Linked DNA regions of Homo sapiens. The protein of the gene in region 4 purifies or fractionates together with the protein of the main gene of each other region. This does not show direct contact. Each region holds a gene or a part of one and is shown on either strand. Other genes may lie near its edges.

The links.
Region 1: the proteins of PCDHB5 (region 4) and CLEC4A purify together in Homo sapiens (co-immunoprecipitation; one large-scale study listed by IntAct). This does not show direct contact.
Region 2: the proteins of PCDHB5 (region 4) and RDH13 purify together in Homo sapiens (affinity purification with mass spectrometry; 2 studies listed by BioGRID and IntAct, with this or other methods). This does not show direct contact.
Region 3: the proteins of PCDHB5 (region 4) and HCN1 purify together in Homo sapiens (co-immunoprecipitation; one large-scale study listed by IntAct). This does not show direct contact.

Annotation. Positions count from the first base shown.
Region 1 is NC_000012.12:8,132,051-8,138,734, forward strand, and holds the end of CLEC4A (C-type lectin domain family 4 member A), read left to right. Parts: intron 1-1,718; exon of another isoform or gene 1,719-2,802; intron 2,803-3,534; coding exon 3,535-3,686; intron 3,687-4,737; coding exon 4,738-4,853; intron 4,854-6,089; coding exon 6,090-6,237; 3' UTR 6,238-6,557; downstream 6,558-6,684. UniProt on the Homo sapiens protein: C-type lectin receptor that binds carbohydrates mannose and fucose but also weakly interacts with N-acetylglucosamine (GlcNAc) in a Ca(2+)-dependent manner. Involved in regulating immune reactivity.
Region 2 is NC_000019.10:55,051,003-55,058,441, forward strand, and holds part of RDH13 (retinol dehydrogenase 13 isoform 1 precursor), read right to left. Parts: intron 5,807-7,439; coding exon 5,651-5,806; intron 1-5,650. UniProt on the Homo sapiens protein: Retinol dehydrogenase with a clear preference for NADP. Oxidizes all-trans-retinol, but seems to reduce all-trans-retinal with much higher efficiency. Has no activity toward steroids.
Region 3 is NC_000005.10:45,684,238-45,691,676, forward strand, and holds part of HCN1 (potassium/sodium hyperpolarization-activated cyclic nucleotide-gated channel 1), read right to left. Parts: intron 1-7,439. UniProt on the Homo sapiens protein: Hyperpolarization-activated ion channel that are permeable to sodium and potassium ions. Displays lower selectivity for K(+) over Na(+) ions.
Region 4 is NC_000005.10:141,131,153-141,139,312, forward strand, and holds PCDHB5 (protocadherin beta-5 precursor), read left to right. Parts: upstream 1-4,053; 5' UTR 4,054-4,282; coding exon 4,283-6,670; 3' UTR 6,671-7,463; downstream 7,464-8,160. UniProt on the Homo sapiens protein: Potential calcium-dependent cell-adhesion protein. May be involved in the establishment and maintenance of specific neuronal connections in the brain.

The DNA.
Region 1 (6,684 bases), on a different chromosome or scaffold from region 4:
ACTCATGGATATTTATTTTAAATTTTGGTTTATAATCCAATACTGCTCTATTTTGTAGTTCCAGCTTTGGACATTGGGAACTTTTTCATTTGACTCCTGTGACCCTTTAACATATCACCACGTGTTTTTTCTTTTGTTTTGGTTTAGCACTTCCTCACTTTCTGGGACTGCAAAATGCTTGAGACTCACATTGTACATTTCATGTCCCTATCCTGGAATCAGATATTTCTTTGAGGAGCCCTAGTTCCTTTGATTGGAGAATAGTGTCCTATGAAATTTGATAATTTGTATTGTCATTTTCATTCAGTTCAATGTATTTTTAAAAATTTCCCTTTAGACATCTCCTTTGACTCGTGGATTATTTAAAAGTGTGTTGTTTAGTTTCAAGCGTATGGAGATTTTCCTGTGTTATTTCTTTTATTAATTTCTGGTTTCTTTTCACTGTGGTTGGAGAAAACGATATGATTTCAGCAATTTTAAATTAGTCGATGTTATTTAATGTCCCGAGATATGGTTTGTTTCAGCATATGTTCCAGAGGCACTGGAAAAGAATGGGTATTCTGTTGTTGGGTGGAGCGTTCTATAAATGTGGATTGGATCCTTGTAATTGATGATGTTTATAAGTTCTATGTTCTTGCTGATTTTCTGTGTAGTTCTGTCAATGGTTGAGAGAGAGGTGTTGATGTATCCACCTATAATTGTATATTTGTCAATTCCTCTTTCAATTGTATCAGTTTTGCTTTATACATTTTGCAGCTTTGTTTGGTGTATACACATTTGGGGTCACTTTACAAGGCTCTGTTTATTTTTTTTTCTGTCTAGTTTTTTTGTTTCTTTGTGGGTTTTTTTGTTTGTTTTTGTTTTTTTTTTGTTTTTGTTTTTCAGACGAAGTCTCGCTCTGTTGCCCAGGCTGGAGTGCAGTGGTGCGATCTCAGCTCACTGCAACCTCTGCCTCCTGGGTTCAAGCGATTCTCTTGCCTCAGCCTCCTGAGTAGCTGGGATTACAGGTGTGCGCCACCATGCCCTGCTAATTTTTGTATTTTTAGTAGATATGGGGTTTCACCATGTTGGTCAGGCTGGTCTCAAACTTCTCATCTCAGGTGATCCATCCACCTCGGCCTCCCAAAGTGCAGGGATTACAGGTGTGAGCCACCACGCCCAGCCTTTTTTTGGTATTTTTAGTAGAGACAGGGTTTCGCCATGTTGGCCAGGCTGGTCTAGAACTCCCGACCACAGGTGATCCGCCCGCCTCAGCCTCCTAAAGTGCTGGGTTTACAGGCGTGAGCCACTGTGCCCAGCCTTTTCTGTCTAGTTTGTTTCTGTTGCTCAGTTGACATTTTCTGTTGTTTTGTCTTCCAATTCACTAATCTCTCTATCCCCTTCATTCTGCTGAGTCCATCCACTGAGCTTTTTATTTTGGTTATTATATTATTCAATTATAAAATTTCCATTTTTTTTTTTTTTGTCTATCTACTGTGTTGAGGCTTCTTTATTTAAGAAAAAAGTGATACATGATGTGGGATTAAAATCAAGAACATCATTGAACTTCACCTTCCCTCCAACCAGTTGCCCCAAACTCCCCTGCCCCCACCCTTTGTGTTCCCAATTCCTTCCTTAGTGAATGAAGAACTTAATCCCAAAAGCCCTGGCACAAACTCCAGGTGCTCTTTCCCTAGCTCCTCCCCTCCCCCTGTCCCCCATTCCTAGAAGGGCAGGCACCTCAGTTTGAATGCATGGGAGAGCCCAGAGTGGTGACGGAGACAGGGGGAAAGGCTTCCCCCTCAGGGAAAGGGACCGAGGAGTACAGTGCAGTGAAGTGAGGGCTCCCATAGCCTGGGGTACCAAAATGGGGCCCTGGGGCCAGAGGAAAGGACACTGGTCCCCCTGAGAAAGGAGACCCAACAGCCTCAAAATCCTCTCGTTGTGCATAGCCACTGCTTGATCGCTTGCCCTTCTGGCGCCGGTTACAGAACCACACTCGGACCACATCCTTCTCCAGCCCAAGCTGCTGGGCGATGTGGCTGATCTGCTGCAGTGTGGGTTTCGGGCACCGCAGGAACAAATTCTCCAGGTTGCCTCTCACTTGGTTCTCGATACTGGTTCGCTTTCTCTTTCGGGCCTGCACGAGGGTTTCTGCTTTGCATATCTCCTGAAGATTTTCATTGTTGTCAGCTTCCTCCACCCACTTCTGCAGCAAGGGCCGCAGCTCACACATGTTCTTGAAGCTAAGCTGCAGAGCCTCAAAGCGGCAGATGGTCGTTTGGCTGAACACCTTCCCAAATAGAACCCCCAGGGTGAGCCACATCGGCCTGTGTATATCCCAGGGTGATCCTCTTCTGCTTCAGGAGCTTGGCAAATTGCTCGAGTTCTTTCTGCAGAGCTTTGATGTCCTGGGACTCCTCCGGGTTTTGCTCCAGCTTCTCCTTCTCCAGCTTCACGGCACCAGAGGGGACGGTGCAGGGCTCCGGGGAGGCCCCATCGGAGTTGCTCTCCACCCCGACTCCTGCTTCGCCCTCAGGCTGAGAGGTCTCCAAGCCGTCTTGGGGCACTAGCCCCACTCCAGTCTGAGGCCCACAGTACGCCATCCCCCCGCAGAACTCATACGGCGGGGGACATGGGGGAATCCCCCACTCCTCAGAGCCTGGCCCAAACCCCGGCCCGATTCCTGGCCCTCCAGGAGGGCCTTGGAAGCTTAGCCAGGTCCGAGGATCAACCCAGCCCGGCTCCGGCCCCCCTGGCCCATCACCTCCACCGCCTGGAGGGGGTGAGAAGGCGAAATCCGAAGCCAGGTGTCCCGCCATGGGGAAGGAAGGCGCCCCAAGCATGGTGAAATCTTGGTTTTTCTTTATATCTTCTAGTTCTTTGCTGAAACTTTCTAGTTTTTCATTTGTTTCAAGCATGTCTGTATCTTCTTGTTGAAGCGTTTTTGTTTTTTGTTTTTTTTTAATCATGGCTGCTTTTAAATCTTTGTCAGATAATTCTAACAATTTTATTATCTTTTTTTTTTTTTTTTTTTTTTGAGACAGGTTCTCGCTGTGTTGCCCAGGCTGGTCTTGAACTTCTGGGATCAAGCGATTCTTCTGCCTCAGCCTCCCAAAGTGCTGGGATTACAGATGTGAGCCACCGTGCCCGGCCCCATTTTTGTTGTCTTGATTGTAGGCATCTATTGATTATTATATTTTATTAAATTTGAAAACTTACTGGTTCTTAGCATAATGACTTATTTTCTATTGAACTCTGGATATTTTTGCATTATATTCTCAGAGTCTGGATCTTATTTAAACATGTTTTCGTAATAGCTGGGCTTTTCAGATGGCACTTCAGCAGGAGAAAAGGGGCCCTGCCTCATTACTGCCTGATTGAGGTAGACTTGGCTTCCTTGACACCTGAGGGGCAGGGGCTCCTGGTTGCATCTGAGTGTGGAGGGGAGTTCCAGCTTCCATGTGCTCTCTCTTGGCTCTTAATTTTAATAATACACACACTTTTAAGAGTGATTATTTATATTGCACGTATGTGCCCCTCTTCCCAATACAGAGACAGCCTGGAGCTGTTGCCCAAAGAATTGGAAGTCATTTAGTTCCAACTGCTACTTTATTTCTACTGAATCAGCATCTTGGCAAGACAGTGAGAAGGACTGTGCTAGAATGGAGGCTCACCTGCTGGTGATAAACACTCAAGAAGAGCAGGTACTTTCTAATAGATAATGGGGCTGTGAGCCCTGCCTGATCTTTGTATATCTCTCTTGGCTAAGAAGGAGGTTTTTGTTACTTTGGGATATTTGCGCTGTGGCAGAAGGCTTTCAATAAAATAGGTAGAAAGGGCTCCTAAGCCTTTATATTCCATACCTCCTTCCTGCTTCAGTAAAACTAACCTCCCCGGAAGAAATTGTGACATTAAAAATATATGAGGGTTGAATGGAAGGATGAAAATGTTTCAGTCTGAAATATCAATTTGTTATTTCAATATGTAAATGTTTTATACATGATTAACTACTTAACAAAGAAGAGGTATTAAGTTGAATAGAGAAAAGAAATAAAGTTAACTCATGATGAATCACAATCAACACTCAGGAATGAAAATAAAGAATCCCTGAAGTTATGAAAGGAAAATGACTGAATCTGCCAAAATTTTCTCATGTACAACTTTGAAGAATGTAATCCCTTAGTGAAGAAAAGAGGGGAAGTAAACCTGAGATGAGAATTCATTCTGATCATAGAAATTGCTTCCATACTGGCTGGGCATGCTAGCTCATGCCTGTAATCCCAGCACTTTGGGAGGCCAAGGCGGGCGGATCACTTGAGGCCGGGAGTTCAAGACCAGCTTGGCCAAAATGGTGAAACCCAGCCTCTACTAAAAATACAAAAATTAGCCAGGCATGGTGGCACACACCTGTAGTCCCAGCTACTGGGGAGGCTGAGGCATGAGAATCGCTTAAGCCTGGGAGGCAGAGGTGCAGTGAGCCAAGATTGCACCACTGCACTCCAGCCTGGGACAGAAAGTGAGACTCCATCTCAAAAAAAAAAAAAAAAAAAAATTCCTTCCGTATGTACTGAACATCATGCTTACAAGCGATGTCTTTGATTCTGCCCTGCTCAGCCAGAGATCCCCATTCCTACGTAGAGCTCTAATGCAGCTGTTGCTGGATCCTCTCCTTTTCTTCTTGTTTCTCTAAGGTATTAAGAATTCAGTTTAAGCTGAATACTGTAAAGGCTGTGACTCCTTCTTTTCCCCCCTCAGGATTTCATCTTCCAGAATCTGCAAGAAGAATCTGCTTATTTTGTGGGGCTCTCAGATCCAGAAGGTCAGCGACATTGGCAATGGGTTGATCAGACACCATACAATGAAAGTTCCACGTGAGTATAGAATGAGATAAAAGAATCTTGGGTCCTGGATCATGCAGAGAGCTTAGGGTATTCTAGCTATCAGCTATAAAAGTAAAATAGCTCACTCTTCTTTTAGCTCTTGGGTACTAGGTTAAATAATTTCATTATCTCATTTAATCTGCGCAAGAACCCTATGAGGCACACATTGTTATTTTTCCCACTGTAGATATGAGGAAATTGAGCTTGGAGAGTGTAGATAATTCAGCTAAGGTCACCCAGTGGTGTCAACAATTGTTCTCAAATCAGGTGGATCTTACTGTGCTTTTAACCCGTATATTTACCTGTCTCTACATAGTGAAAACCCATGTTGATTAAGATCATAACCAATTATTAAGATTTAATAATGCTTTTTTTTTCTTTTTTGAGACAGGGTCTTACTCTGTCAACCAGGCTGGAGTGCAGTGGTGCAATCATGGCTCACTGCAGCCTTGAATTCCTGGGCTCAACTGATCCTCCCACCCAAGTCTTCTGAGTTGCTAGGATGACAAGTATGTGCCACCACACCCAGTCAGGCTGAAGATGTAATGCTTCTTATGAAGCAAAAATGCTAAATTCTGATAATCTTATATCTCATATTTATGTAATTCTTTAATTGCATAAATTACATACTTTACATATATTACATAAATTACATAAAATACATACTTTACTGGATTACCACCTTCGATCTTCATATCCACTGTATGAAATAAATAGTGATATTACTCTAGTCCTTATTTTTTAGATAGAAAAACTGAGAATCAGGGAAGTTAAATTACTTGTCCAATAACAAGGATAAGTAGAAGATTCAAAAGATTTTACTAGTTCTCTAGACTTTAAAAACAGTGCATTAAAAAAAGGAAAAAACTCTATTGATAAGTGGGACCAGGGTAAAATCTTTTCATCATACAAGGACACCCTATAGGTTGATGGACCCATAGGAACAGGACATAAGGATGGACAAATAGAAGAGAACCTCTAGAAAATCTATGGTGAGGATATTCAAAGCAGTAAGGTAGAGAACATTGAGTGACATAGGCACAGTTTTCAAAGGAAATGCCGGAAATGCAGATGGAGGAGAAGCTGCATGATGAGTAGCAGAAAGGTGGATTTGGGCATATCTGACCCTATGTTCCATGAAATTCATCCCTCGCTCCTCACCCCTGTCTCTAACCCTTTTCAAAGCTCTGTTTGAAGAAATGCCCTCATCCTTTTTGTCGCTTTCAGATTCTGGCATCCACGTGAGCCCAGTGATCCCAATGAGCGCTGCGTTGTGCTAAATTTTCGTAAATCACCCAAAAGATGGGGCTGGAATGATGTTAATTGTCTTGGTCCTCAAAGGTCAGTTTGTGAGATGATGAAGATCCACTTATGAACTGAACATTCTCCATGAACAGGTGGTTGGATTGGTATCTGTCATTGTAGGGATAGATAATAAGCTCTTCTTATTCATGTGTAAGGGAGGTCCATAGAATTTAGGTGGTCTGTCAACTATTCTACTTATGAGAGAATTGGTCTGTACATTGACTGATTCACTTTTTCATAAAGTGAGCATTTATTGAGCATTTTTTCATGTGCCAGAGCCTGTACTGGAGGCCCCCATTGTGCACACATGGAGAGAACATGAGTCTCTCTTAATTTTTATCTGGTTGCTAAAGAATTATTTACCAATAAAATTATATGATGTGGTGTCTCCTCCTGTCTGGTTTTCTCTTCATCCCTACTATACTGATATATAATTGTATATATATACTGACATATATATATATTATATTTTATATATATATTATAATATATATATATACACTGACAAATAAAATTG
Region 2 (7,439 bases), on a different chromosome or scaffold from region 4:
CTTGTAAAAAAAAAAAAAAAAAAAGGATAATAACATCACCTGCCTGGTACAACTGTATACTTACTCATTCAGTAAGTATTTTCTAAGCACCTATTACTGGGCACTGGAAATACAGGGTGGACAGCACAGCCGAGGCCCCGTCCGTGTGGACCGGACATTCCAGTGCAGCTGAGAGCCACTTCCACTCGTGAGAGAATCTACCCGTGACAGAGCTGCGTGGAAGCTGACAGGAGGCCCCTCTCAGGAGGTGACGCAGAAACTGGGACCGGGAAAATGAGGCAGGGCCCACGTGCGGAGACCCAGGGAAGGGGGATGCAGGCAGCAGGCGCAGCACGGGTAAGGCCCAAAGGCGGGACAGGGAGACTCCACTCACAGCTGGGCGCCCAGGAGTGCCGCCAGCTTCTGGTGTTTTGTTTTGGTTTTTTTTCTTTTTTTTTTTGAGATGAAGTCTCACTCTGCCACCCAGGCTGGAGTGCAGTGGTGTGATCTTGGCCCATGGCCCACTGCAACCTCTACCGCCTGGGTTCAGGCGATTCTGCTGCCTCAGCCTCCCGAGTACTGGGATTACAGGTGCCCGCCACCGCACCCTGCTAATTTTTGCATTTTTAGTAGAGACGGGGTTTCACCATCTTGGTCAGGCTGGTCTTGAATTCTTCACCTCGTGATCCACCCGCCTCTGCCTCCCAAAGTGCAGGGATTACAGGTGTGAGCCACCGCGCCCAGCCTGTTTTTTTTTTTTTCTTTTTATGAGAGGGAAGCTCACTCAGTGGCCCAGGCTGGAGTGCAGTGGCGCGATCTCAGCTCACAGCAACCTCCGCCGCCAGGGCTCAAACGATCCTCCCACCTCAGCCTTCCACATAGCTGAACCACAGGCGCCCGACACCACAAGCAGCTACTTTTAAAATTTTTTGTAGAAATGGGGTTTGGCTATGTTGCTTAGGCTGGTCTCGAATTTCTGAGCTTAGGCAATTCGCCCACCTCGGCCTCCCAAAGTGCTGGGATTGCAGGCGTGGGCCACAGTGCCTGGCCTGTTGTTTTGTTTATCTGGGAACTGCCTCAACTTTTTTTTTTTTTTTTTTTTTTTGGACACAGGGTCTCACCCCGAGTGCAGTGGTACAATCAAAGCTCACTGCAGGCCGGGCGTGGTGGCTCACATCTGTAATCCCAGCACTTTGGGAGGCCGAGGCGGGCAGATCACCTGAGGTCAACCAGCCTGACCAACATGGTGAAACCCTGTCTCTACCTAAAACAAAAAAGTAGCCGGGCATGGTGGCAGGTGCCTGTAATCCCAGCTACTCAGGAGGCTGAGGCAGGAGAATTATTTGAAACCAGGAGATGGAGGTTGCAGCCTGACCAACAGGAAGAAACCCCGTCTCTACTAAAAATACAAAATTAGCCGGGCGTGGTGGCGCATGCCTGTAATCCCAGCTACTCGGGAGGCTGAGGCAGGAGAATCACTTGAACCCAGGAGGTGGAGGATGCCGTGAGCCAAGATCCCGTCATTGCACCAGCCTGGGCAACAAGAGCAAAACTCCGTCTTAAAAAAAAAAAAAAAAAATCCCTCACTGCAGCCTCAACCTCCCAGGCTCAAGCAATCCTCCCACCTCCACCTCCCAAGTAGTTGGGACTACAAGTGCACACCATCACGCCTGCCTCATTGTTTTTTATTTTTTTTTTGAGATGGAGTCTCACTCTGTCACCCAGGCTGGAGTGCAGTGGCGCCATCTCGGCTCACTGCAAGCTCCACCTCCCGGGTTCACGCCATTCTCCTGCCTCAGCCTCCCAAGTAGCTGGGTTACAGGTGCCCGCCACCACGCCCGGCTAATTTTTTTGTGTTTCTTAGTAGACACGGGGTTTCACCGTGTTGGCCAGGATGGTCTCGATCTCCTGACCTTGTGATCCGCCCGCCTCAGCCTCCCAAAGTGCTGGGATTACAGGCGTGAGCCTGCACGCCTGCCTGATTGTTTTGTATTTTTTGTAGAGATGAGGTCTTGCTATGTTGCCCAGGCTGATCTCAAACTCCCTGATAAACAAGGCTGTGGGTACCTGCTTCCTGGGGCTCTTTGCTTTGTGTTCTTTCTAGTCGGGAGCTGGGAAGAGCCACAGCTTCCAGCTTTGTCAGAGTGTCATCTCACAAACTGATCTTCCCAAAACTTCTGTCTCCCAAAGTGCCGGGATGACAGGCGTGAACCGCTGCACCTGGCCTGCCCCAGTGTGGTAGAATACACACCACATAAAATGGACGATCTTCACTATTTTTAAATCCACTGCTGTCTTTATTCCTGGCTGTTGATCTTAGGAAAACACCAAGAAGCTGGTACTTGATTTGCTAAAAAAGTCACAGACACAGCTTTACTTAATCCTCTAGAGAGGCTGGGCGTGGTGGCTCATGCCTGTAATCCCAGCACTTTGGGAGGCCGAGGTGGCTGGATCATGAGGTCAGGAGATCGAGACCATCCTGGCTAACACGGTGAAACCCCGTCTCTAGTAAAAAATATAAAAAATTAGCCGGGCGTGGTGGCAGGCGCCTGTAGTCCCCCGCCACTCGGGAGGCTGAGGCAGGAGAATGGCATGAACCCGGGAGGCGGAGCTTGGAGTGAGCCGAGATGTGCCACTGTCCTCCAGCCTGGGCGACAAAGCAAGATACCGTCTCAGAAAAAAAAAAAAACCCCTCTAGAGAATCCCAGAAAATAGAAGGAATTATTCCATTTCCCGGAAGAGGAACGTGTGGCTAAGAGAGGAGGCATCACCTGCCCAGGTGTGTCCAGCCGGGGTCCTCACTGTCTCAGGGACCTCAGTGCTCCGGACACCTGTGTCCACAAGCCAGAGACAGGATCAGAGGCGCCCTGGGTGGGATTGCCTGGGACAGTGTGCATGAAGGTGACAGTGCTGTACCTGGTACACAGCAGGTGCTTAATAAATGTTCATCCACCTCTGAGACTCTGAGGCATTGCCCTCTCACTGTTCTTTGTGATCTCACCGTAGTGCCTCTCACCTACCCGACAACAGTGCCGGCTCTTTCTTGATCCCCAAGGGCACAGCAGGGGCTCAGTATGAATGAATGAATGAACCAACGAATGTGCACCTGCACCTGCCTCCCTAGGGCTGTGAGTGGCACAAGGACAGCTCTGGTTCATCTCACACCTCCAGCACCTGGTCAGGTCTGAGATCACGTCTGCTAAATAAATGAGGTCCCACAACTCCCCCATTCCTTGTTCATTTCCTGAGTACCCGTTTACTGAGCGGGGCACATTGACTCTGAAGAAGAAAGCTTTGGCCCTTTCAGTGCCAGACTAGAAAAGAAACAAAGCAGCTGGGCATGGTGGCTCATGCCTGTAATCCCAGCACTTTGGGAGGCTGAGGCAGGCGGATCACAAGGTCAGGAATTCGAGACCAGCCTGGCCAACATAGTGAAACCCCGTCTCTACTAAAAATACAAAAATTAGCCGGGCATGGTGGCACCCGCCTATAGTCTTGGGAGGCTGAGGCAGGAGAATCGCTTGAACCCAGGAGGCGGAGGCTGCAGTGAGCCAAGATCGCATCATTGCACTCCAGCCTGGGTGACAGAGCAAGACTCCATCTCAAAAAAAAGGTCTTGCTCTGTCATCCAGGTTAGAGTGCAGTGGCACAAATACGGCTCACTGCAGCCTTGAACTCTCGGGCTCAAGTGATCCTCTTGCCTCAGCCTCCTGAGTAGCTGGGACTGTAGGCACATGCCAGGATGCCCGGCTAATTTTTTTTTTTTTTTAATCTTTGGTACACACAAGGTCTCACTATGCTTCCTAGGCTGGTCTCTAACTCCTGAGCTCAAGCAATCCTAAGAGAAGAGATTTTAAATGTGGTCACCACAAAAACAGGTAAGTATTTGAGGTAATGCATATGTTAATTAGCTTGATTTAGCCATTCTACAATGTATACAATGTACATCATGCTGTACATAATATATACAAGTATACATGTCAACTAAACAATAAATAATTTTAGTGTATTCTTGAGTCTATTTAAAGATGAACAAGAATAGAAAAGCTAGAGGATGGTCCCAGTTTTACATAAAAATATATAAATACACACACAAACCTATTATAAACAAGACTAGAAAGATCCATAAAAGTGATTCTCCTGGGGCTGGTGCAGATCAAAGTTGTTTAGTTCTGTCTTCTTTTTTATTGAGACAGAGTCTCACTCTGTCACCCAGGCTGGAGTGCACTGGCACAATCTCAGCTCACTGCAACCTCCGCCTCCTGGGTTCAAGCAATTCTCCTGCCTCAGCACCCTGAGTAGCTGAGATTACAGGTGTGCACCACCACGCCTGGCTAATTTTTGTATTTTTAGTAGAGACAGGGTTTCACCATGTTGGCCAGGCTGGTCTCGAACTCCTGACCTCAAGGGATCCACCTGCCTCAGCCTCCCAAAGTGCTGGGATTAACAGGCGTGAGCCACTGTGCCCAGCCAGTTCTGTCTTCTTTACATTGCAGTATTTTATAAATGTCCCATAACAAACACATATTTCTTTAACCATGGTGGGGAAGGCACTTGATCAATAAATGCTTAATAAGGTCAGGTGCGGTGGCTCACGCCTGTAATCCCAGCACTGTGGGAAGCTGACCTGGGTGGATCACTTGAGCCCAGGAGTTGGAGACCAGCCTGAGCAACATGGTGAAACCCCAGCTCTAAAAACAAAACAAAACAATAAAACAATAATTAGCTGTGTGTGGTGGCGTATGCCTGTACTCCCAGCTACTTGGGAGGCTGAAGTGGGAGGATCCCTTGAGCCCAGCAGGTTGAGACTGCAGTGAGCCATGACTGCACCACTGCACTCTAGCCTGGGTGACAGAGATGGATCCTGTCTCAAACAAACTAATTATTCAGGTAGGGCACGGTGGCTCACACCTGTAATCCCAGCACTTTGGGAGGCCAAGGGAAGCAGATCACCTGAGGTCAGGAGTTCGAGACCAGCCTGACCAACATGGTGAAACCCTGTCTCTACCTAAAACACAAAAAATTAGCCAGGCACGGTGGCGGGTGCCTGTAATCCCAGCTACTCAGGAGGCTGAAGCAGGAGAATCATTTGAAATCGGGAGACGGAGGTTGCAGTGAGGCAAGATCACACCACTGCACTCCAGCCTGGGCAACAGAGCGAGACCCCATCTGTCTCAAAACAAACAAACAAAACAAAGTCAGCCGGGCGCAGTGGCCCACGCCTGTAATCCCAGCACTCTGGGAGGCTGAGGCAGGAGAATCACCTGAGGTCAGGAGTTCCAGACCAGCCTGGCCAACGTGGTGAAACCCCGTCTCTACTAAAAATACAAAAATTAGCAGGGTATGGTAGCAGGCATCTTAATCCCAGCTACTCAGGAGGCTGAGGTCCGCGCTTGAACCCAGGAGGCAGAGGTTACAGTGAGCCGAGATCGCGCCATTGCACTCAGCCTGGCCGACAGAGTGAGACTCCCTCTCAAAATAACAGTAGTAATAAATAAATAAAGTCGTTGCTTGCAGGCTGTACAAAAAAAGGCAGCAACTGGACTTGGCCCCTAACTCATAGTTTGCCAAAACTCTGCTCTAAAGTTTGCTTGCTTCATTCACTTCTCAGAGCCTGGCCCTGGGAGCCGCCTATCCCAGTCCTCATCCCACATGGCCAGCGTTCTCCTACCTTCAATGATCTTTGCTGCAAACTCTCGGATAGACTTGAGGGAAGCCAAGTCCAGGTGCCGGGCGTTGACATGGTGATTGAGGGTCTCCCCGCGGATGTCCTTTGCTGCCGCCTCACACTTCTCCATGTCTCGGCAGGCCAGGATGATGTTGCCTCCTGAAAACCCAGGATGGAAAAAGATTTAAATTAATAATCCACTCCTGGGTACTGACCCCAGAGACATGAAAACATACGTCTACACAAAAACACATCCACCAATGTTCACTGCGGCATTCTTCACAAAAGCCAAAAGGTAGAAACAACCAAATGCCCATCTGTGGATGAAGGGACAACAAAATGTGGTCCATCCATAGAGATGGAATATTAGACGGCCGTGAAAAGGAGTGAAGCACTGGCTCATGCTACAGCAAGGATGACCGTCAGAAACACTGTGCTCGGGGAAAGAAACCAGACACGAAAGACCACACAGCGTACAATCCCATTTACATGAATTCTATGTATATGATTTCACACCTATGAAACGCCCAGAATAGGCAAATCCATAGAGAAAGAAAATAGATTCTTGGTTTTCTAGGGCAGGGGGTGGGGAGAGGGAATTACAGCTTGATAGTTACAGTGAGCAGGTTTCTTTCTAGGGTAACAGATGTTCTAAGATTGATTTTAAAGATGGTTGCATCATTCTGTGACTATACTAAACATCACTGAATTGGTCGGGCACGGTGGCTCACACCTGTAATTCCAGCACTTTGGGAGGCCAAGGCAAGAGGATTCCCCATCCTCTCCTTTTTTTTTTTTTTTTAGATGGAGTCTCACTCTGTCACCCAGGCTGGAGTGCGGTGGCGCAATCTCGGCTCACTGCAACCTCCACCTCCTGGGTTCAAGCAATTCTCCTGCCTCAGCCTCCCGAGTAGCTGGGATTACAGGCACCTACCACAACTAGCTAATTTTTTATTTTTTTATTTTTAGTAGAGACAGCGGTTTCACCATGTTAGCCAAGCTAGTCTTGAACTTCTGACCTCAGGTGATCCACCCCGCGGCCTCCCAAAGTACTGGGATTACAAATAAGCCACAATGCCCAGCCTCCAATTTTTTTTGTTGTGGTAAAATACAAATCACTTAAAATTTATCATCTTAACCCCCTTTTCTTTTTGTTTATTATTATTTTTTTTTTTTTGAGTCAGTCTCACTCTGCTGCCGCGGCTGGAGTGCTGGCGCCATCACAGCTCATTCAGCCTTGAACTCCTAGGCTCAAGTGACCTGGGACTATAGGTACCACCTGTGCCAGCATGCCTGGCTAACTCTGGTAGAGATGGGGGTGTTGCTATGGTGTCCAGGCTGGTCTGGAACCCCTGGCCTCAAGTGATCCTCCTGCCTCAGCCTCCAAAAGTGCTGGAATTATAGATGTGAGCCACCGAGACCCGCCCTCTTAGCCATTTTTAAGTGTCCAGTTCATTGGTATTAAAAACATTTATGGCTGGGCCGGGCATGGTGGCTCACACCTGTAATCCCAGCACTTTGGGAGACCAAGGCAGGTGGATCACCTGAGGTCAGGAGTTCAAGACCAGCCTGGCCAACACATTACAAACTTAGCTGGGTGTGGTGTTGCATGCCTGTAATCCCAGCTACTCGGGTGGCTGAGGCAGGAGAATTGCTTGAACCCGGGAGGCGAAGGTTGCAGTGAGCCAAGATCATGCCACTGCACTCCAGCCTGGGCGACAAGAGCAAAACTCCATCTCAAAAAAAAAAAAACAATAATAATAATTCCTAATGTTGTGCAACCATTACAACC
Region 3 (7,439 bases), about 95 Mb from region 4:
ATCACTAACACAAATGGCTAATCATGAATGATTAGTATAATCAGTAATTATAGCCAATAGAATTATGGGATTATTTATATTGTGCAATACTTATTCAACCATAACTTGGTGCTTCTAGCATGTATTTCTGCTTTTTATACATTAGATATATATCCAGATCACAGAAAATACAGGTGTCCAAACTTTTCATTCTAATTCACTTACATGGATATTCAGGGTAAATATCAAATTTATTGTTTAGAAAAAGAGACAACTTTTAAAAAATACTATTTAAACAAAGAATGACTATTCTATAGGAAAAATAAGGAACAGTTGTTCTCCCTTTAAAAACTAATCAAATAGGCCAGGCACGGTGGCTCACGCCTGTAAACCCAGCACTTTGGTAGGCCAAGGTGGGTGGATTGCTTGAGGTCAGGAGCTCAAGACCAGCCTGACCAACATGGTAAAACCCCATCTCTACTGAAAATACAAAAACTAGCTAGGTGTGGTTGGTGCATGCCTGTAATTCCAGTTACTCTGGAAGCTGAGGAAAGAGAATTGCTTGAACCCAGGAGGCGGAGGTTGCAGTGAGCCGTGATCATGCCACTGCACTCCACCCTGTGTAACAAAGCAAGACTCTGTCTCAAAAAACAAATAAACAAAAAACTAATCAAGTAACTTTCTATATTCATTTTTTCAGTCTCTGCTCATGTTCCTCAAACAACCTAGGTAGTGTAAATTTTAATAAGGTGCATTGTCTTTTTAATAAAATAAGGCTAAAACATTCTGCAAGGGTATAAGTGACAACTGCTCTAGAAATGATATCACAAAGATTTCTTTTAATTCTGTCAAATTTATAGATTTCTCAAATTCTTTTACGTTCCTAACTAGAAATAATTATATTTCTAAATAACAATTTTTAGACTGTTAAACATGACAATAAAAAAGAAAAGGAAAGATTTATCAGGTTATAACTCATCTTATTTGCCTCATATGTAATACTTAACTGATTTGAAATAACATCCCAAATGGTTTAACTATGCCATTTTCTGATGAAAAGAAAGATGAACAGAAAGTAGCACATGCAACCCAATGAATGCCATTATAATTTTCCCTAAAAGCTATTTCCAAATGTTCAATACGGTAGCATTCTATACCAACTAAAGAGATTAAACTGGAAAATTTTGCAGAAACAGGATATATTAAAAGTTTTCCGTCCGGAAGCAGTGTCTCATGCCTGTAACGTCAGCACTTTAGGAGGCCGAGCCGGGCGGATCACCCAAGGTCAGGAATTTGAGATCAGCCTGACCAACATGGAGAAACCCATCTCTAACAAAAATACAAAATTAGCTGGGCGTGGTGGCACATGCCTGTAATCCCAGCTACTTGGGAGGCTGAGGCAGGAGAATCGCTTAAACACAGGAGGCAGAGGTTGCGGTGAGCCAACATCGTGCCATTGCACTCCAGCCTGGGCAAAAAGAACGAAACTCCATCTCAAAAAAAAAAAAAAGTTTTCCAGTGCTAACTGCCTCATGACTAGACCAATTTCACACAGCATATATAAAATATGGCATTGCACATCAGGGCTTCTGCTGCCAGGGATTGCATGAAGGTAAAAAGGAAATAGCAGCACACCATTTACATGGCCATTCCTTCATATATTTTTTTCTTCAGAAATTATGGAAACGGTTAGAGTATGTACTTAGAGAATATTTAATTTTTCAAACAACTAACATGCCTTAATTCTGTTTTAATTTTACACTCATACAAATAACTAACTCTTAAATAGCATTAAATGCAGAGCATAACTTCTAAGCACTACATATATAGAAATGTTTATATAGCATATACAGTATATATACACACTATATATACTATATACCCCATGAATTTTACATATATATATATTTTTTTCTATTATAATTGAGAAAATTAAGGTCCAGTTACTAAGGTGGTGAAGCTCAGATTCTGACCCAAACAGTTCCTAATATTGTTACCTCAAAATAATATATGCCCAGTCTTTTTTTTTTTTAAGCAAAACAGCATCAAGGATTATAAGGAGAACATATAAGCCTCTCCCTTTTCCTTTTACCCTACATATCACTTTCCAAATTCAACCACCATAATTGTTTCTTTTAGTGTTTAGTTCATATTTCAAAGACAAATTAATTTATCAATTTTAAATACTATTCATTAGCTGCCAACTGTGGAACACAAGGACTTAGCTTTCTGACATCACCCAAACCACATTTACGTTTCTCCTGCCCTCCCACCAACCTAGAATAATTGCACCACAATCTTTATTTAAAACAGTCAACTTGTTTACATTATTATGACCAAATAACCATTAGGTACTGTTGAACCAAGCAAGGAACTGTGATTCTTTTCCCTTTTTTAGACACCTTTAGATCATTCTGGAGTTAATAAAGTTCTTTTGTTTATTTACTTGTCTCCAATGTACTCTACAAAATATGAAAGTCATCAATATATTGTTCCAAATGATCTCTGGAACACCTAGTAACATTATTTATCAAATGCTGATATCCATCTATTTGTTTTTCCTACCCTGAAGGCCTTCCTCCAGAACGCTTTGCTTTACCGCCCCAGTCTGGACTGGTTTCTTTCAAGGCTAGCTATTTTGGAGTACTCCTGGGACTTCAGGTTTCTCTGTGTTAGAGCCCATTTCCTAGCTTCTATGTCTTCATGTTGTTTGGTGTAATTTCTTGTTTTGCAGGAACATGTCATCTAATAACTTTCTAAGAAAGGGTACATGGGTAGTTAATACTAGAGTTCTTAATTTCTGAATATCTTTATTTAAATTTTGTATTATGGCAAGGTATGGATTTCTTATGGAGATTACTTTCTCTCAGAATTTTGCAGACTTTGTTACATCGTCATTTACCTTAAAGTATTATTCCCACTTCTTGATATGTAACTTTTTCTTTGAAAAGTCTTAGTCATTTGTTTGTTTGTTGCTTATTCAATGGTGTTGTAAAGCTTCTGTGTAATGATCCTTGGACAGTCTTTTTCTTTCATGATGCTAAGTATTCCATAAGTTCCTCAGAACAGACATTTCAGTTGCTGCTATCTGGAAAATTTTATCAAAAATGTCTCTATTAATTCCATATGTCCATTTTCACTTTTTTATCATTCTAGAATACCTTATGGTAGATTTTGACCTTATAAATTAGTTATTGGTTTTGCTATATTTTCTTATATTTCCTATTCCCTTTTGTCTTTTTGTTCTAATTCTAACGGGCTTCCTAGACTTTATCTGCTAACACATTTCATCCAAGAGCTGTTTTTTAAATTTCTTACTATTTTTTTCATAGCAACGTGTTCTTATTGTGCAGATAAAATATTTATGAAGATATCATTTGTGGAGTATTTTTTATAATACTGTCATTTCTCCTTATGCCATCCCTCTGGACCTTCTTTGGCTGTTTGATTTAGTCTTTCTCTGCTTGATTTAGTCTTCCCTCATGAGACTTTTCTCAAATGTCTGGTTATCTTTTGCTTTCAGTTCCATATTAACCAATGCCATACCAAAAATATAATCACAGCCTCAATGTACACATGCGGGAATTTTTGCAGAGTGATTAGGCAATAAACATGATTTTTTATCTGAAGACTTTGAAATGTCTCCCTTTGGAGGTATTTTCTCCAGTTTCCCGACTGAGAAAAATTGGCCTGGCTCCAAGCATCCTAATGTGAGCACAGGGAGTTCTGTATTCACTAAGGAAACCCTTATTTAATTCTGTTTTCAGTCTGGCTTTCCTGGAACTATTTCATAACTGGCATTTCCAAGTCCTGAATTCTTCTGGATTTCAATGGGTGAAGGATTGTGGAAGTGGAATAATTTGTCCATTAACTTCCTATTTTACAAATGTTCTTGAGATCTATATTCTCTGATGTCTCCTCTTTCTTCTACTTACCAATGTGTCTGTGCTTTTTCATATTATTTTGGAGTGACTTCAAGAGGGAGGAAGTATAAATGATTAGGTTCAATCCATCACGTTTCCCAGAAGGTTTGGAGAATTATTTATACTGGCAGCCTTGTTTCTTATTATGTAAAAGAGTTGAAGTGACAAAATTAATATTCACAAGAACTGAATTCCTGGCCCAGTTCTTACTATCTATCTATGTCACCATGTTCACGCTACATAACTTCTCTGCAGTTTCATTTATTCATCTGTGTATTGGGCAGGGAAATGTAATAGTTGGGGCACATACTTGCAGGTGCCAGTGGGAAGGAGATGCCAGGTATTACTGTAGGAAAAAATAAGAGCTTTCATTGCTTTCATCTGAATTTATTAACTCTAAGATTAAATGTTCTCATGACCTGCTTGGAGAATAATTCTTTGTCCATTCAGTCAATAAATATTTATTACAGGTCTGTTATGATGACCTAGAAATTTCACTCCAAAGAGAAATGAAAACATCTCTGTGCAAAAACTTGTACGAGAATATTCATATCAGCAGTATTTACAATAACCAAAAAGCAGAAACAACTCAGATGTCCATCAACTGATAAATGAATAAATTAAAGGTAGTATATCCATAAAATGGAATGTTATTCAGCAAGGAAATGAATAAAGTACTGACACAGGTAACAGCATGAATGAACCTTGAAAAAACATTATGCTAAGTGAAAGAAGCCAATAAAAAATACTATATATTGCATGACTTCACTGATATAAAATATTCAGAATAAGCAAAAATCTACAGAGACAGAGAGAGGATTAGTGGTTGCTTAAGGCTGAGCGGGAGGGCGGGAGAGGAGAGAAAGTGAGTGCTAATGCATATGGGGTTTCTCCTTAGGATGACAAAATATTCTAAAATTGATTGTGGTGATGGCTGCATAACTGTGAACTTACTAGAAAATATTGAATTGCTTACTTTAAATGGGTGAATTGTATGGTATATGAATTTTGTCTCAAAAAAGCTGTTAAAAATAAACCATATCTGTATGTAATAATTAGGTGATGGGATGATCTGTGCAGCAAACTACCATGGCACATGTTTACCTATTTAACAAACCTGCACATCCCACACATTTACCCCTGAAGTTAAAATAAAAGTTGAAGAAAAAAAAATGAAGCCTCTAAGAAAGTTTGGCAAGAAAAGTCTATTATGTGCATTTTTACAACATTGGGAATGTAAAACTGAGTAAGATTCATAAGGTAGCATGGTTTAAATTCCAGGGAAAGGACACATATAAAAATAATTATAAATTCTGCTGAACAGAAAGCCTAGATAGAAAAATAAGTGTGTGCACAATGATTAAATGGAAATCTAAAAGATGAGTAGAAACTAGTTATGTGGAGTGATAAAAAGTGAAAAGAGTATTTCAAGCTTGGGGGTAATGTCACATTAAAATCTTAGTTGCAGGAGAGAACTCAGGTTGTTCTAGGAGCTAAAAATTTACCCAAGTGGCTGGAACACAGAGCTGGAATGAGTGGCATGTAATGAGGCTGCATATATCGGCTGAAATTATGCAGGGTCTTGAAGCTCATAGAAAGTTTGTCCAATGTAGTCTAACAGTAATGGGAAGTTACTAAAGGTTTTAAAGAGCATAACAATATTATTAGATTTGCTTTTTAAAGATCACTCTTGTCACTCTATGTTGAATGAAATGGAGGACAGGTTACATTTTCTGTCCTAAAACAGCCTGTAAATATCATAACAGGAATGTCAACCTTGGAGAACCTACGTTATTCGTGTCATTTTAAGAAATCTGTAAACTGGAGGCAGTATTAATTGGTCAAATCAATATGTATAGAATCTCTAGAATGTTCATAGGCAGTCATTCCATTCCCTGAACTTTAGCCAAAACAATGAAGAGTAAGGTGCGAAGATGTTTGTTGCAGCACTTTTTAAAAAATACTGAATAACTGTATACAACAAAGCTGATAGTCTAAAATTTATAAATATTTACTAACTTTGTATGTATGTAAAATTAGCCTTATGTTTTTAGAGTTACAGCTAGTGACCTGAAAATAAAATTAGGTTTATATAAATAAAATTATAAGTTGTAAATTTAAAGCATGAGTAATGTTGCTTCCTTGCTTTAACTGCGTGGTCAACTATTAGACAAAATAGAAAAATACTATGAGAAAACTAACTAACATAACTTGAAAGAGTCATGAAATCAATCTTATCAAAGTTGGGTGAAATGTGTCAGATAAACACTCAACTCAAAAATAATCAACTTCTATATATATTCTTTACTTCTATATATATTCTTCTACAAAGTCCCTTGAATAGTTTCTGTAGCACATATATACAAATAGAATTAACAGAGCCATGAAGGTTTATTTTGCAAAAACATAAAATTCCAGGATGCACCAGGAATCCTGATTTTTTTTTCCTGTAAAACTAATGGTAAGTTGTACATCCAGATGCCTTCACAAAGAAAATTATTTTTAGAAGAAAAGTACTTAGAGAAAATATAATTTTCATAGTGCATGCAGACTTTTTTCTTTATTATCACTATTTCTACAACTAAAATATATAGTGTCAGCCTAATTCATAGTTTGTTACTCCTTTACACAAAATGATAAAATGAAAATTTGTCACAGACCCTGCAAATGCTCAGTACTCTTCATGTAGTGCTAATGATCTGCAATAATTTGCACTGTACTTACAAGAGACTCTATTTGAAAGTTCTTTTCCGGAGCCCAATTGTTGTTTCTAAATAATGAAGTGAATTATCTGCTAAACACAAGAATTATATTCAGAATGATAAGATTATCACCTGAAAATCATACTAAATGCATTCTGCTGGTTTCCTGCTCACTATAGGACATAGGTGCATTGAGTATAATAATGCAGAATTACAAATACTATTTATCTTGCTTTGTGGTGGTGATGTTGTTTTGGTTTGTGGTTTTTGATCAAGCAGATATAGTTGAATATAATTTTCTTAAATGAACCTATGATACAAATAATAAGTAATATATCTTTCCAGTGCATTTAAATTTCTTTCATTATTCAACAGGCACGTTCATAAACCCAAGTCCACATAATTAAATATGATTAGTAAAGTGTACCTCTTTACTGATTCTCAATTTATAATCATACCCCGAAGGAGGTTTAAAGGGAAAGTTGCTCAGAAAAAAATGAAAACTATCTTATAATATTTTAATAGTATAAATCATAATATCTACTAAATGCAACAGTGAAACATTTGCTAAAATTTAAAGTTGCATAACTTACATGTATACTAAGAAAAAGTAACTAAATAAATTCACACGTTTAAATCTTTGAAGAAATTTCATGTTGTGTCTAACAGTTGCTAGAGCCACTAAGAAAAATGTAATTGAACTTAAAGCACAAAAAGGTTCACCTAACATAGAAAAAAAATAAATTCTTATGGTTAATTTTGGCTATGTTGATATGAAAAGCAAATAAAATAAGCATTGCTGGCAGATACAGAGTGTGTTCAGCACAAAGATAAC
Region 4 (8,160 bases):
CTTATGTCAAAATTATCACTAATTTGTACAAACTCCTTCAGAGAGTAGAAAAATAGACATTTTCCAAATCATTTGGGTGCCAGCATAAATCTGAATAGGTTATAACATTCAAACCTGAATAGGATATTATAAGAAAAGAAAATTACTATTCTTTTTTATAAATATGTATGGAAAATTCATTTTTAAAAATATTAGCAAATAAAATTTTAAAATGTATAAAAGAAAAATAATAATTGGAAAATGGAGTTTATTTTAGGAATACAGAGGCAGTTTAATATTTGAAAATTGATCATTGTAATTTACCATATTAAAAGATAAAGAACAAAACATGATTATTTCAATGGATACAGAAAAAAGTCATGTGATAAAATTCAACACACAGTAGTGGTAAAATTATTAGCAAACTAAAATCAAAGGGAACTTTCAGAGTGACTTTAAAAACCTACAGGAAACATCATTAACAATAAATTTTCAAAAATTTTCCCCTGGAGATCAAGAATGAAACAAGGATACCTGTCTTTTCTTCTCCAATTTAGTATTCTATCACAGGTCCTAAACAGCGGAATAAAGCAAAGAAGGAATAAAAGGCACTATGATTCGAAGGGAAGAAATAAAAATGTCTTTTTAAGTGGACATACTTGTATACCTTGCAAGCCATGAAGAATCTACAGGCTACTGGAATTAATAAATGAAGTTAACAATGCCACTGGATACAAGGTCAACATACAAACATGAGTTCTATTTCTATTTAGCAACAAAAAAAGTGAAAAATTTAAACATTATGCACAATAATTTCAAAAATAGCAGCTATTTATAAACAAATCTAGTTGAATATGTATAAGACTTCTACATTGAAAACTAAAATATGAGAAAAATTAAAGAAGATCTAAATAATTACAGGAATATACAATGTTCACTAATTGGAAGACTCAATGTTGGGAATATGTCAGTTATCTCTTAGTCAATCTATAGATTCAATAAAATCTTAAACAAAATTCCAGCAGCTTTCTTTGTGAAAATTAATGAGCCGAGCATTAAGTTTATTTGAAAATACAAAAACAGTAATAACCAAAGGAACCCTGATGAAAAGGAACCAAACTAGAGATACCACACCAAAGTCACAATCCGCAGAATAAAGAGTTAATAAGCTGGACTTCATTAAAATTAAAACTTTCTGCTCTGCAAAAGATACTATGAAGAGAATGAAAAGACAAGACATAAACTAGGAGAAAATATTTGCAAAAGGCATATCTGATAAAGGACTGTTATTCAAAATATACAAAGAACGACTAAAACTCAGCAACAAGAACCCAATTTAAAAATAAGGCAAAGACCTTAAGAGACACCCACCAAAGAAGGTATACAGGTGGCAAATAAACATATGAAAAGATGCTCCATATCATATGTTAACAGGGAAATGCAAATTAAAATAACAGTGAAATATGACTACACACCTATTAGAATGACCAAACTTCAGGACACTGACAGTGCCAAATGCTGGTAATGAGAGCAAAAGGAGCTCTCATTCATTGCTGGTGGGAATGCAAAATGGTACAGACACTTTGGAAGACAGTTTGGCAGTTTGATACAAAACAAAATATACTCTTACCATGTTATCTAGCACTCATGTTCCTTAGTATTTGCCCAAAGGAGTTGAAAATTTATGTTCACACAAAAACTTGCACAGAGACGTTTATAGCAGTTCATTCATAATTGCCAAAACGTGGAAGCAACCAAGATGTCGTTTAGTAGGTGAATAGATAAACAAACTGCAGTTCATTCAACCCATAGAATACTATTCAGCATCAAAAAGAAATGACCTAACAACCCATGAAAAGACATTGAGGAAATCTAAATGGATATTACTAAGTGAAAGAAGCCAATCTGAAAAGACTACATACTGTGTGATTTCAACTACATGGTGCTCTAGAAAAAGCAAAACTGTGGAGACAGTAAAAAAATCCACTTGCATTGGGTTCTAGGGGAGGGAGGGAGGTATAAATAAGTGGAGCACAGGGGATTTTTAGAGCAGTGAAACTACTTTGTATGATATTATAAAGGTGAATACACATAATTTTAAATTTGTCCAAAGCCATAGAATATACAGCACCAAGAATGGGCCCTAATGTAAACTATGGACTCCAGGTTATAATGACGTGCCAATGTAGATTCATCAGCTGTAGCAAATGAACCACTCTGGTGGAGGATGTTGATAATGGGTGAGGCTGTGCTTGTGTGGGGACAGGGGCATATATGAAATCTCTGTACTTTACTCTCATTTTTGCTGTGAACCAAAAACCATTCTAAAAATTTAGTCTACTTTTAAAAAACTGGAGAACTTACTTCTCAGATAACAAAACTCATGATAAAGCTATAATAATTAACACAATGAGTTATTGTAGGATAAACAAGATTGAATAAAACATCTTCAGAGCTATGGTTACCTAATTTATAACAAAGATGACATTTCAAAAACAATGGAAAATGGATTGTCTTTTAAATAGATGGTGCAAAGGTTTAAAGCATTCAGATACTTACATTTTAAACCTTTTGACTCCAAACTCATTCACTTGAAAAGTTAATTTCAGGTTGATTATAGCTTTAAATATGAAAAATGGAATAATTAATCTTTCAAAATACATCATACAAGAATATTTTCATGACCTTGGAGTATGTGAACATTTAAATAGAACACAAAAAAATGCTAATCATACATGAAACTTATTGACAAATCTGACTAAAGGTAAGAAATTTTATTCATCAAAGACACATAATAGACTTGAAATAAAAACCATAGAGTGGGAAAAGATATTTGCAATACATATATCTTAAAAAGGACTTATGCCCAGAATATATGAGAAACTTCTGCAGATCAATAAGCAAACAGGCAAATGCCTCCCCCCAAAAAAGTAAAAAGGTTTGCATAAGCCCTTCACAAGATTGTATCCTAATGGCTGATAAACATGAAAATGTGCTCAAATTGTTTAATCATCAGGGAAAATGCTAACTAAAATTACAATATCATATCACCATACACTAACCAGAGTGGTTTAAAATGGAAAAGATAGCATCAAATGTTGACAAGAATGTGGAGCAACTGGAACTCTCATACTTTGCTGGTATTAGTACGACTACTTGAGAAAACTTTCTCATTATCTGCTAAAGCAAAATATATGTGCACATCTTAATGCATAGCAATCCAACTCCTTTGAATATATTCAACATAAACACATATATGTGGTCACCAAAAGACTAGTACAAGGATGTTTATACCAGTACTACCCCAAAGAGCTTAAACCTGGAAAACAATGTTCATCAACTGGAGAATGAATAAATAAATCATAGTATATTCATACAACAGAATGATATAAAGCAATGAGAATAAAACAAATAAGAACAAGATGCCACAGATCAATTTGCTGAACATAATATTGAGGAGAAGAAGCCAGACACACGAGAGTAACAATCTATAACTCCATTTGTATAAAGTTAAAAAAAAAAAAAGCAAAAAAAACCTATGACAACAGAAGTCAGGACAGTGCTTATCTTTTGGGGAGAGGGTGGTAACCAGACAATAGCAGGTGGGGACTTGGGTTTGGGTAGTATTTTTAATCTAGGTTCTACTTACAGGAGTGTGTTCACTTTGCGAAAATTCATTGAGTTATACACCTATGATTTGTGCCATTTTCTGGGTGTTATTGGTGTTTACTTCAAAGTGAAAGTAATTTTTCTTAAACTTTAAATTTCTATAGATATTCCTGATCACTTATTTAATATAATCAAATAAGAAACACCAAACAAAGTGTATTTGTGTACTCAAGGGTACTTTTATGGAGATTAATATATAATTTTAGTTTTTTTCTCAAAAGTATTTTCTCACTGAAAATTAACTCCACAACATTTATTTAGAACTTTCAGCAACTAAGAGCTGGAGATACCATCGGGAGAGCTTATGTGACAAAAGGGTATGGATACACGTCAGTTAGAATTTAGGATGAAATGGCAAATACTATATGCAATAGTAAATTAGGACGCCTGGTGGCGCTGCAGGCTAAGAGTGTGGATAGTGGGCTCTGCGGATAACTCAGACGCCATTAAGCTGGGGAATCCAAACTCTAAAAGAAGGACGCATTTTAGGTAAGATCTAGTGGCTAGATCTTCAGGGTGGGCTTCGTTCTTGTGGAAATCAGTCAAGAAAGATCGGATTCGCGGTTATTTATGCAAATCATCTGGGTGGATTGTGTACGGAGTTAAACTGCGCCTTCTGGACCGGGTCTGAACAATGGAGACTGCGCTAGCAAAAACGCCACAGAAAAGGCAAGTTATGTTTCTTGCTATATTGTTGCTTTTGTGGGAGGCTGGCTCTGAGGCAGTTAGGTATTCCATACCAGAAGAAACAGAAAGTGGCTATTCTGTGGCCAACCTGGCAAAAGACCTGGGTCTTGGGGTGGGGGAACTGGCCACTCGGGGCGCGCGAATGCATTACAAAGGAAACAAAGAGCTCTTGCAGCTTGATATAAAGACCGGCAATTTGCTTCTATATGAAAAACTAGACCGGGAGGTGATGTGCGGGGCGACAGAACCCTGTATATTGCATTTCCAGCTCTTACTAGAAAATCCAGTGCAGTTTTTTCAAACTGATCTGCAGCTCACAGATATAAATGACCATGCCCCAGAGTTCCCAGAGAAGGAAATGCTCCTAAAAATCCCAGAGAGCACCCAGCCAGGGACTGTGTTTCCCTTAAAAATAGCCCAGGACTTTGACATAGGTAGCAACACTGTTCAGAACTACACAATCAGCCCAAATTCACACTTTCATGTTGCTACGCATAATCGCGGAGATGGCAGAAAATACCCAGAGCTGGTGCTGGACAAAGCGCTGGACCGGGAGGAGCGGCCTGAGCTCAGCTTAACACTCACTGCACTGGACGGTGGGGCTCCGCCCAGGTCCGGGACCACCACAATTCGCATTGTCGTCTTGGATAATAATGACAACGCCCCCGAATTTTTACAATCATTCTATGAGGTACAGGTGCCCGAGAACAGCCCCCTTAACTCCTTAGTTGTCGTTGTCTCCGCTCGAGATTTAGATGCAGGAGCATATGGGAGTGTAGCCTATGCTCTATTCCAAGGCGATGAAGTTACTCAACCATTTGTAATAGACGAGAAAACAGCAGAAATTCGCCTGAAAAGGGCATTGGATTTCGAGGCAACTCCATATTATAACGTGGAAATTGTAGCCACAGATGGTGGGGGCCTTTCAGGAAAATGCACTGTGGCTATAGAAGTGGTGGATGTGAATGACAACGCCCCTGAACTCACCATGTCTACGCTCTCCAGCCCTACCCCAGAAAATGCCCCGGAAACTGTAGTTGCCGTTTTCAGTGTTTCTGATCCAGACTCCGGGGACAACGGTAGGATGATTTGCTCCATCCAGAATGATCTCCCCTTTCTTTTGAAGCCCACATTAAAAAACTTTTACACCCTAGTGACACAGAGAACACTGGACAGAGAGAGCCAAGCCGAGTACAACATCACCATCACTGTCACCGACATGGGGACACCCAGGCTGAAAACCGAGCACAACATAACGGTCCTGGTCTCCGACGTCAATGACAACGCCCCCGCCTTCACCCAAACCTCCTACACCCTGTTCGTCCGAGAGAACAACAGCCCCGCCCTGCACATCGGCAGTGTCAGCGCCACAGACAGAGACTCAGGCACCAACGCCCAGGTCACCTACTCGCTGCTGCCGCCCCAGAACCCACACCTGCGCCTCGCCTCCCTGGTCTCCATCAACGCGGACAACGGCCACCTGTTTGCCCTCAGGTCGCTGGACTACGAGGCCCTGCAGGCGTTCGAGTTCCGCGTGGGAGCCACAGACCGCGGCTCCCCGGCGCTGAGCAGCGAGGCGCTGGTGCGCGTGCTGGTGCTGGACGCCAACGACAACTCGCCCTTCGTGCTGTATCCGCTGCAGAACGGCTCGGCGCCTTGCACCGAGCTGGTGCCCCGGGCGGCCGAGCCGGGCTACCTGGTGACCAAGGTGGTGGCGGTGGACGGTGACTCGGGCCAGAACGCCTGGCTGTCGTACCAGCTGCTCAAGGCCACGGAGCCCGGGCTGTTCAGCATGTGGGCGCACAATGGCGAGGTGCGCACCGCCAGGCTGCTGAGCGAGCGCGACGCGGCCAAGCACAGGCTGGTGGTGCTGGTCAAGGACAATGGCGAGCCTCCGCGCTCGGCCACCGCCACGCTGCACGTGCTCCTGGTGGACGGCTTCTCCCAGCCCTACCTGCCGCTGCCGGAGGCGGCCCCGGCCCAGGCCCAGGCCGACTCGCTCACTGTCTACCTGGTGGTGGCATTGGCCTCGGTGTCGTCGCTCTTCCTCTTTTCGGTGCTCCTGTTCGTGGCAGTGCGGCTGTGCAGGAGGAGCAGGGCGGCCCCGGTCGGTCGCTGCTCGGTGCCCGAGGGCCCCTTTCCAGGGCATCTGGTGGACGTGAGCGGCACCGGGACCCTATCCCAGAGCTACCACTACGAGGTGTGTTTGACCGGAGACTCAGGGGCCGGCGAGTTCAAGTTCCTGAAGCCGATTATTCCTAACCTTTTGCCCCAGGGCGCTGGTGAAGAAATAGGGAAAACTGCTGCCTTCCGGAATAGCTTTGGATTAAATTAGAGATCTCGTGATGACGCGTTGTTTTCTGCCATTTATCCCAAACTTTTTCAGATCTAGAATTCGAGAGTGTCATGGACAAAAATTTCACCTTGAGATTGAGCTTTTATTTCCCTTTTTAATGGATTTGTCTGTTGAACTTCATGCTGTCCAAGTGTTGAAAAGTCAATTTTATTTCATTGCATTTATTTACATAGTGTCATTCCAAATCCATGCATGCTGTTGATTTTCCTGAGATTTTTTTCTCTTCTTGTTGGTATTTGTTGTGATAAACCACCTTAATAAAATCAAGTATTAATTTTATTTTCTATATATTCTGCCCATTCTATTTCATCACACTCTTAAGTATTATATATTTGATGCTAAAATGCAAAAATTAAAAATGTTTCACATCATCATATTTTAATTGTTTAAAACAAAGACAAATACATACATATGCTAACAAATGAAATATGTGAAAAAATATGTAAAAGGAAACAATCTTCTATTTACTCTTTTTTGCAGCCCTGAGTCCTATTAGCAAACTTTTTAAAAACAGTTTAATTGAATTATTACTTACATGAAGAAAAATGAACAAATCCTTTATGTTCAACTCAATATATATTCACAAAGTAACATATTTATTACCAGCAGCTTGAAGAGAAAATGAAACATCACTGGCACCCCAGGTGCCACACAAATTACTCCTTACAATCACTACTACCCCAAGTATAGCAAATATGCTGACTTCCAATACCATAGTTTAATTTTGCCTCTTCTGAATTTATATAAATGGAGTAATAAAGTATGAACTGCTTGTGTCTGGCTTTTTTCACTCAGCATTATGTTTATGAAATTTATCCATAATACAGCTTTTAAGTTTAGTCCTTTCATTCTCATTGCTGTATAATATTCCACTGTATGAATATACCACAGTTTATTATCTATCCTTTAGATCAGTATTTGGGATGGGGCAAAGTTTGGCTGTTATGAATTATACTGCTATAAACATTCTTTTAACATGCCTTTTGCCAACCTGTATATGCAGTTTTGTTGGGTATATGCCTAGGAGTGGAATTGTTGCCCATCTTGCAAGTACACGTTGACTTTTAGCAGACATTTCCCAATAGTCTTCCAGTGGTTGTACTAATTTACATTGCTATTCCCAGTGTCTGGATGTACAAATTTTTCCACATTTCTGCCAACAAACTGGTATTGTCTGTTTTTCATTTTATCCCATTGGCAAGCACTTTATACAGTTTTTAAAGCTCTTATATTTACTTGCTTATCACTAAGGAATATGTTTGTAACCATTATGAGCTGAACTGTGTTCCTATATCCCCCTCAAATTCATATGTTGAAACCCTAACTCCCACTACCTCAGAATGTGACTATGTTTAAAGATAGGCCCCTAAAAACAGGTAATCACATTAAAATGGGTCCTTAGGGCAGAACTTAATCCAATATAACTGCTGTACTTATAAGATGAGGAGATTAGAACATAGAGAAAGAGA